Homo sapiens: one gene and its partners. The protein of the gene in region 3 interacts with the protein of the main gene of each other region in a biochemical or structural test. Each region holds a gene or a part of one and is shown on either strand. Other genes may lie near its edges. The genes, in order: GOPC, PALS2 and KCNJ12.

Region 1 (2,529 bases), on a different chromosome or scaffold from region 3:
AGCAGGTTACAATGACCTGCAGAATATTAAATCAGAGAGGAGGCACTCCATGTTTAATCATGGGACAACAGACCTAACAAATTTATAAACCTGCATATGAAGAGAGCTTTAGTCAAACATAAACTGACATGAAAACCCAACCAAAACAATTACTGTATCAAAATGTCTTTATCTCATCTTGCCCACCTTTTAGATGACTGGAAATCATTTACTTAGAAAGAAAACTGCCGTTTGATTTGAATGTACTGTGTTTCATGACATAGTAATAAATCTGAACTTTTACTACCAGAAAAATTTGTCTTTAAGTGCCAGGACTATCACAAGACAAACTTTATGAACAACTCAAAATGTATAAAACTGTCTTTTGTGGACCCCAGAAAACAAGCATTTGAGGCTCAACATGAATGGGTAAATGCTCCAGTACTGCGCACACAGATCAACATAATTGAGAACAGATGTTTTACACTCATCTGCATTTCTTTTAAAAAACAAAAAAAGTAAAATGTTTAGTAACTTTTGAGAATCTATTTCTAGTGCAGCATTGATTGATAAAAGACTGCTTAAAGAAAACTATTTTGTACTGCATTGAATAAAGCTGAAATGCAAACTCATTACAATAAATGATCATTAATAATTGGTTTAGATTTTAGGATGCACAATAAATTTTTTTAAGTCTAAAGCCTTTCAGTTACAAAAATTAAGTCAAGCCTATATTTCTACAATTCATTGAGTCAAGCTCTGTCTTCTGAAATACCACAGTTAACATTCTAGAATATAAAATATGAATTCACTTACTCTCTGTATTTTAAAGGGTACTCCTTATAAAATTCCAGTTAGCACTGTCCTCCTACTAAAGGGAAAAGGAACCAAGTAAAACAGTAGGGTTTCATTTGGTACTTAAGAGCCCAGTAATACCCCTTTGGGAAACACATGCTTTGGTGCTTACAAGTTCAAGAAAATCAAAATTGCTTTACATGCAATAGCTAATTATGGTCTACCACAGAAAACAGGGTGTTTTATGCATTGAGAATTGTTCACATGAAGCCCTGAGGTACCCGCCTTTCATTTAGGCAACAAACAGCCTCCCCTGATTTTGTAGTCTTTGTCACCATCTTCCCCAGTGCCCCAAATTCAGAATAGTCTGATTAACAATCTTGTCTGGAGATATGGTCAATTTAATAAGATTTTTTATGATACAGAGTGTGCAGATCATCTAATTTTGAAGCACCGTCATCTAGCGGAGTTTCACTTGCAGTGCCCAGGTCTCCATTTTCATGTGTGTCAGTTACTGCCTTCTTATTAAATCCTGAAAGAAAGGAGAAAAAAAAAGCAGACACTTTCTGGTTTAAAAAGTTGGTTTTGGTCAGGTGCAGTGGCTCATACCTGTAATCCCAGCACTTTGAGAGGCCAAGGTGGGTGGATAACCTGAGGTTAGGGGTTCGAGACCAGCCTGGACAATGTGGTGAAACCCCGTCTCTATTAAAAATACAAAAATTCGCCGGGCATGGTGGCACATGCCTGTAATCCCAGCTATTTGGGAGACTGAGGAAGGAGAATCACTTGAAGCCAGGAAGTGGAGGTTGCAGTGAGCTGAGATCGTACCACCGCACTCTAGCCTGGGTGACAGAGTGAAACTCTGTCTCGATTAAAAAAATTAAAAAAAAAAAAAAAGTTAGTTGTATAAGTTTATTGAGTGAAAAACAAAGGAATGCCCAAGTAATTAACATTAGTAATCTGAGGCAAAAATAATGCCTTATATTAATCAAATCAGTAATTCCTAACAGGGGAATTCTTCCCTCTTATGGCAGGTATCAAATATTGTACAGATTTAAAAATACTATATTGGGCTTATGTAAAAATTGTATTAAGTTTCCTATCAAGTTTTCCTTTCCTTTTTTTTTTTTCTTTTTTTTTTCTGAGACAGGGTCTCACTCTATTGCCCAGGCTGGATTGCAGTGGCATGATTACGGCTCACTGCTGCCTTGACCTCCTAGGCTCAAGCAATCCTTCCACCTCAGCCTCCTGAGTAGCTGGAGCTACAAGCATGTGCCACCATGTCCAGCTATATTTTAAAAATTTTTTTGAAGAGACAGGGTTCACTATGTTGCCCAGGTTGGTAACTCCTGGCCTCAAGCGATCCTCCTGCCTTGGCCTCCCAAAGTGCTTGAATTACAGGCATGAGCCACCATCAAGCTGTCTGTAAGACTTAGAAGTAATACATATAATTGTAAAATTCAGTCAATTCTACTTATATAAATATCTACTGAACTGTGAATTATATTTTTATTTTTCATTGTTGCTTTCATATTACATTAACTTCAGTTAACTGAGGCATATACTAGTTAATTGCTTAAAATGTAATTTGTTGGCAAGATGATGTCTAGCTAAAACTTAAAACGAATTCTGATCATCTATAAAATAAATAATAGGCTTATAAATAAATAAGTGTTGACTATATCACCTATTTAGGTGATATATATATCTATAAAGTATAGACGTGTGAAACAATAACCAATAGATACATTTTTT
Region 2 (3,658 bases), on a different chromosome or scaffold from region 3:
AAAAAAAAAAAAAAAATCTTGGAGAAACTCAAATATAGACTGCATGTAGATGATAGTAAGATACTGCTTATTAATTTTTGTTGTATTAATGGTATGTTTTAAATGTCTTTATCTCTTAGATATAAATACTGAAGTATTTACAGATGACATGATATCAAAGATTTGCTTCAAAATAATTCAAGGTGAGGAGGAAGTGGGGAGGGGTCTAATTAAAACAAGAAATTGCCACGATTATTGAAGCTAGGCGATCGGCATAGGGACTCATTTATTCCCTCTTTTGTATATATTTTTGAATTTCCATTAAGTAAAAAAGTAGACAGGAAAAAAAGGAAAAAACATGTAATAGAAACTAAACATCAGAACACCCCACTTTACCAATGATAAACCATATAATAAACATGCCTGTTAATGATCTCGGAGCCCAGTTACCCCACTAGTAAAATGAAGGCGTTCAATTAATACGCATATTTTAATATTGGTCCATTTCATTTTACAAAGGGGAACTAAACTTTTGATTTAAAATAAAGTGTACAATGATTTTCAAGTAAAAGAATACTGTTCCAGATCCTAACTACATCTAATTAATTTTCATTCTGTAGCACCTTATATAGCATGTTTATTTCATAAGCATAATTAGCTAAGAGTTGGCCAGGCACGGTGGCTCACGCCTGTAGTTCTAGCACTTTGGGAGGCCGAGGTGGGCAGATTGCCTGAGGTCAGGAGTTCAAGACCAGTCTGGCCAACATGGTGAAACCCCGTCTCTACTAAAAATACAAAAATTAGCCAGGCCTGGTAGCGCATGCCTGTAATCCCAGCTACTTGGGAGGCTGAGGCAGGAGAATCGCTTGAACCCGGGACGGGGAGGTTGCAACGAGCTGAGATCGCATCAATGCACTCCAGCCTGGGTGACAAAGCAAAACTCTGCCTCAAAAATAAATAAATAAAAATAAATTAGATAACAGTTAAACATGCTCAAAAGAAAAGGAAAGATTTTAGAAGGAAAATCGTATGGTTAGCTCACGGTCAGAAGCTTGGTAGTGATTCCTGCATCCACCACAGCCTTGTGCATGGCACGTAACGTCTCTAGCTCCGGAGCCGCAATAAATACCACATAGGGCATAAACTCTGATGTCCTCAATACTTTCAGTGCCTGTGTAAAAGAATAATTATAAGCCAATTTATACAATATTAGAACTAGAATTCTGCTACCCTTTAGTATATATCAAAGGCTGTTTGCACTTGTTCTATGAATTAAAGGACATAACTTAATACTTATCCCTGTTCTGTCCTTCTCATTCCATATAGTACTTTCTTAAAACAGTGATCCATTTATTTTGTTTTGAACTCAGTCTGTTCCTCTTGAACAAAGTATAAAACAATGATCCAAAAATCATCAAGAGTGATGTAAACTCTTTTTTATGTTAATTGTAGAATTCTGTTAATACTCAAAAAGTAGAAATAACCTCAATGTTGATTAATTGGAGAGTGGTTAAATGAATATATATTCATACTATATAGCAATTACAAAGAAAAAAAGCTCTACAGTAACTACCACAAAAAGATCTCCAAGGAATAGTTCTATTTAATAAAACCCCTGAAGAATCTATATAGAATTTTTCCATTTATGTAAAAAGAAACAACAAAAACAGAAAACCCATTACCTTATATATATTTGTATTTAAGGCATAGTGAAATGACTAGAAAGAGACATAAGAAACTATTAACAATTTTTATCTCTGAGTAGGGACGTGAGGTTGGGCTGAGTGTAGCGGAGTGGGAAGGGGTAGGTGACAGAAATATAGAGTGACAAAATGAATAGTGTAGAGGTGTGCATGTGTGTCAGGTAGGAGGGGGAGTGACTTTAATTTTTTATTCTTTATATTGCAGACTTGAGTTTTAAACTTAACATTTCTTAACACAAGCACTTATGCATTACTTGAACAGGTAAATAAATACATACTAAACTTCTATTGTAGATCTAATCACACAGTTTCTATTGCCACCCAAGCCTCTGTTGGCTAATTGTTCAGAGATTTATTTAACTAGCTATGTATACATAATAACATTCTCTATCACCCAAAGGTAATGGAGGGAGTCACCTTTCCACCCTGACAAAACAAACAACCCCAACCCAACAACCCCGACACACATGAAAAAAACTCCACAGAAAATAAAATATAAAACAGCTTTGGAATCCAAGCAGCTTACTTGTGGGTTGACATCCAGAATGCAAGTCCGTCCAGTTTGGACAACCTCAAGAATAGAATCAATTTTGGTTCCATAGAGATTTCCTTCATATTCCCCATGTTCCAAATACTTTCCAGCTTTAATATCTGCTTCCATCTCAGATCGTGACACAAACTTATATGCCTGGCCATCTTTTTCATCTTCCCTTGGTTTCCGTGAAGTAACTAAATAAAATAGTGTTGAGATTTTTGTACAAAGAAATTTTAGGGCATAAAAAATAGACTAAAATACATAGGGTGGCTTAACGTTTTTCCACTGGGTGCAGCAAACTGTAGGCTATGACCAGATCTGATCTGCTTCTTATTTTTGTAAATAAAGTTTTATTGGACCACAGCCATACTCATTTGTTTATGTATCATACATGGTTTCTTTCCCATTAAAATGGTGGTAGTAATTGTGACAGACTGTATGGACTGCGAAGCCTAAAACTTTACCATGTGGCCCTTTAATAGAAAAGTTTCTTGATACCTTAGGGGAATATTTTAAGAGGTAGTCCCCCAAATAAAATTTGTATCCAAAAATATGCTTCTTAAAATCACTTTGAAACTCAAAGTATATTTACCTAGCAGCAGAGCCTTCAATGAAGTTCTTAATTATGGTAAGTGTTTGAGGCATGTTGTGAGTGAGTATCTTTTCAACTGACCAGCACTCTCCTTCTCCTTAGGAATCTATTACATCTTTTCTTTCCACATTAACACTTCCTAACTGCCCCAAAACGTGAGCAAGCAAAGTTCACCTGTTCTTAGTTGTGATACCAATTTTGTAAAGTGCAGTTTTACCCACAAATTATCTATCTTTTATCTTACCTCAAAACCAACGCTTTTAGCTTCCTGTTTATTGATATTCCCAAATGTTAACTGTTCTATTTTATACTTCAGTGGTAGAGCTAGACGCCTCATTATTATTATGGTCTATTAACCTCCTCTCCTCTGACCTGACATATTATTTCTGGGAAAATGAGATTGAATAGCTCAAGTCAAAATTTAGAAGTAGGAGATCCTTTTGTCTGATATTTTACAGCTTTGAATACTTTCAGAGACATACAACCCTTTGCAAGTTGGTCTGTGCTAGGAACGGTTATTACCATTTTTTAAACTGTTGCAAATGTGTACTCTCTGACAACTTTGTTAACAACAGCTTTGAAGAAGAAAAGTAATTTTTGAGCGTGTTATTTCAAGCTTAGCCTTACTCTGGGCTTTGCTGGATCGGATATAAGAAGTATCCTGTTTCTATTAGCTAAGTAGTTGGAGAATAACTGATGGAATTATTAACTACACCAAACTAAACTAAGAAAGTAATCCGAATAAAAAGATGACAGTGTTTTGACTATTTCTAATAAGCCTAAGACATAGAAAACTTTTATAAGAACAAAATGAACTTCAAACTCATGCTCAAAAATAAGGGTCAAATG
Region 3 (3,658 bases):
GGGTGGAGGCAGGGAGGGCTGAGAAGTATCCCTGCTGCCAGTCCTCATGTTACCTGGTTTCCTTTTCTGCCCCCACTCCCCAGGTGAGCCCCAGGAGACAATCTCCCATCCTGGCACACCTGGCTGCACACCTGGCCAACCGGGCACACCTGGCTGAGGCCCAGGACCAGAACCTATCTGCTCCCCACAAAAGGGGCCACCAGCCCTGTCTTTTCTGAGGCAACATGGACATCCAGGGGAGGAGGGACGGGCAGTGCTCAGGCAAGCAGAAAGCATGCCAGTCTCTATAGTTGCAGAGGTGATCACTGCTGGCCACTAAAGCCGCTGGAGTTGATCATTGCAAATCATAAACATTTTTAAACATTTTATAACGTGGGTGTCATGTTCCAAAAAAAAGACTGGAAAGGAGAGGTGAAATGCATTGACATGAAACTCAATGACCGTGGGGAGTCTGGAATGCTTAACTGGGCAAGAAACAGAGACACTGTCCCCTCCCTGCCAGCCCCATCCCCTCAGCCGCCCTCCAAACATGTATGCTGAAGGCAGGAGAAAGGATTCAGCCATCAGCTGAGATATGAGAGGCCCCACGCCCCAGGCCTCAGTTTGCTGGGATCTGCAATGGGAACGGCTTGTGATCCTCAGAAGGAATCAGATGGGGACATCCTGAGCTGAAGCAGGCCAAGTGCTAGAGGACACAACAGGGCTTGGAGCTTGAAGCAGTGAGGGTACAGATATAAAGCACTCCACCCAGAGTAGGGGCCTGAAGGAAGCCCCAACTCCCTCCCACTCAGCCAGACAGACAGATGGCAGGCCAAAGGCTCAGAGAAAAGGTCAGAATCCAGCTCTGTCCACCAACAAGCGCCACAGTTCTTGGACAGTGACCTCTCTGAGGCTCAGTTTTCTCATCTGCAGAATGGGCTGACAATGCTGGCTACCATTGCTACCAAGCACTCACTGCATGTCAGGCACCAGGCCTGGCTGAAGCAGCCCATTCACTCTCTGTGTTTACTGGGCGCCTGCCATCTCCTGCCTACCGCTTAGGCACTGGGGACACAGCTGTGGTAGAATAGGTCCAAAAAGAGGAGATCCTATTCCAAGGGAAAGATAGACAGTAAACAAGATCAGCAAATAAAATATATTGTGGCAGATAGCATTAAGTTCTACAGAGAAAAATAAAGCAGGAAAAGGAACATGGGGGAAAGGGAGGCTGCAGTGTCCCACAGGGGAATCAGGGGAGGTCCTGGAGAGAGGGTGGCATCTGGGCAAGACATGAAAGCGGTAAGGGAGGGGCCGTGCAGAGATCTGGGAAAGAACATTCCAGGCAGAGATAGCAGCATGTGCAAAGGCCCTGAGGTAGGAGTGGGCCTGATCTGTTGGAAGCACAGCAAGGCAAGCAGGAGCGTGGCCCCGGGGAGGGAGCAAGAGTCCTGGAAGTGAGGCCAGACTGTGCAGGGCCCTGAGGGTCCCAGGGAGGAGTGTGGTGGGAATCGACAGAGGGCCCTGACACCCAGAGTGCACCAGGCACATAGAAAGTGCTCAAGGAACAATGGCCCAGAGTGGCTCTGGTAGAAGCCTCCACTCCATAAGCTTTATTGTTTGTTCCCTGGCCCCTCTCCAAGCCTGAGTCCTTCAAAGAGGCCTGGGCTGCAGGTGAGGGCAGGAGAGGGAGGCTTTGGCTGCCCAAGCAGGAGGGAGGGCTCAGTCCAGGTGGGCAGGGGGAGTCAGGCAGGATCCAGGAGGCTGTGCCCACTGACCCTAGGACAGCATTAATGCACAGCCAAGGCGGAACTGCTCCCTGGGGCAGCTGAGAAAGGGGTTCCCACTCCTATCTGGCCAAGCAAATGGAACCATGTCCAATGATGCATGGCTGAAGGCTAATTAGAGGGCTGGGCGGGGGTCCCCAAGGTCTCCACAGCCTCATGCTGCCACTTCAGCAGCCAGGCAGGAAGGAGTGAGCTGTGGAGCACCAGTGGTGGTGATTGGGGTTAGGGGACACTGAGGACACACCAGGAAACAGGAGGCCTGCACTGGGGCCCACTGCCATCTGGGGCCCACTGCCATCTGGGGCCCACTGCCATCTGGGGCCCACTGCCATCTGGGGCCCACTGCTACAGCAACTCGCTGCCCTGCCCTGGGCCTGCTTCCCTACATGTCCAAGGGAAGGTTGGATGGGGAAATGACGAGTTCCCCAGGCTCTGGCTCCACAAATGCTCACACCCCCTCCTTCCCAGATCCCCCTCTCCACACGTCCATTTCTACTGAGACCAGCCCCTCCCCACCCCCAACTCCCAGAGGCACGCTCCAAGTCTCACATTCCTACTGCCCCATCCTGAGCACTCTCCGGAGCCAGTCCCACTTCACAGATGATGAACTGAGGCCAGGAAGAGTGACCCCATCTTGGTGGCAACATCTGCCTCTCTTGCCCCCCTGAGTCTGTCCAAGAGTCTCCTCTGAGATAGTGAGATCCCTGAGGGCAGGGGCTGGGTCTCCCCGTATGCAATGCCCATTGATTAAGCACTTCTGTATGGCTACCCAGCACAGGGGCCACAGCTAGGCAACAGGGCCTGGGGTCTCCAGCCCCAGAACTCAGCCCCCACAGCTCTCACCAGCACAGCAAGGCCTCTGTGGCTGGAAGAAGCAGTCCAGACATGGAATCATCGAGCATTTACTGGGCACCTACTCTGTGCCAGGGCTTAACTAGGTCCTAGGAATACAGCTCCCGGGAGCTGGGATGGCATGCAGGCCTCAGGCCCTGTGTGGGACCTGCCTGGTGGTAAGGCAGGGAGAAAGCTAGCCTGGCAGTCAAATGCCCCTGAGGGGTGTGTCTGTGGAATGGGGGAAGGTGCAGTTCTGTCCCTGGGAAAGCACCAGGGCTCTGGGTCTGAGCCCCACAGGCTGGTGCCTCCAGTGCCTCCCTGGGCCTCCAATCCCTGTCTGCACAATAGAGCTAATGCCACCCTCTGCACTGGCAGGCCATTAGGAAATTAAGTCAGCTGACCCAGGGCTGGGTCCTTGGCCAGTGCCCAGCGGGGGCTCTGGTCCTGCCCCGAGCCCAGCACCTCAGAAAACCCACCTGCCTCTGCCAGGCCCCCCCCCACCCCCAACCCCATGGTGCCTCTGAAGCTCTGGCCAACCTGCACACGGCCCAGTTTCAGGCCAGCTCTCTTTCATCTTCAGCCTTTCCCTGCTGCCGTGTCCCCATCACGCTGCCAGTTCCCGGCACAGCCATCCCGTGGGGCTGAGCCCCCACCCACCGCACCTTCCATGTGGCCAGCCAAGCCTCCACCCCTCCTGCTGCCCGCAAGCTGCCCCCTCCCTGACTCTCCTCCACGCTAGCCGGTGGCAGGGCTCCAAGGGCAGGCCCGGGGAGGGGCAGGTGTACCCATGTGTCGCTCACAGTAAAGCCCTGGCCAGGGCCCAGCCACAGGCACCAGCTGCACCTGTTGGAGGAAGGGCCCAGCCCAGAGCTGGGCCTGGGAGCAGGGGGGGTGAGGGTGGCCACTGGGTGGGCACCGTGTGTACCAGTAGCCTTCTGCCTGGGGACCTGGCGAGGGCCACAGAGGTTGATGACAGTAATGATGCACTCACTTCCGCCCCAGCCATATGCCAAGGCCTCCGGGTGCCACGCTTGGTACTGCCAACTGTGGCCCAGGGTACC

The links.
Region 1: the proteins of KCNJ12 (region 3) and GOPC interact in a test that uses a peptide from one of them, tested with the Homo sapiens proteins (one large-scale study listed by IntAct).
Region 2: the proteins of KCNJ12 (region 3) and PALS2 interact in a test that uses a peptide from one of them, tested with the Homo sapiens proteins (one large-scale study listed by IntAct).

What each region holds. Positions count from the first base shown.
Region 1 is NC_000006.12:117,562,079-117,564,607, forward strand, and holds part of GOPC (Golgi-associated PDZ and coiled-coil motif-containing protein), read right to left. Parts: intron 1,307-2,529; coding exon 1,176-1,306; 3' UTR 1-1,175.
Region 2 is NC_000007.14:24,677,884-24,681,541, reverse strand, and holds part of PALS2 (protein PALS2), read right to left. Parts: intron 2,412-3,658; coding exon 2,209-2,411; intron 1,151-2,208; coding exon 1,022-1,150; intron 1-1,021.
Region 3 is NC_000017.11:21,379,233-21,382,890, reverse strand, and holds part of KCNJ12 (ATP-sensitive inward rectifier potassium channel 12), read right to left. Parts: intron 1-3,658. UniProt on the Homo sapiens protein: Inward rectifying potassium channel that probably participates in controlling the resting membrane potential in electrically excitable cells. Probably participates in establishing action potential waveform and excitability of neuronal and muscle tissues.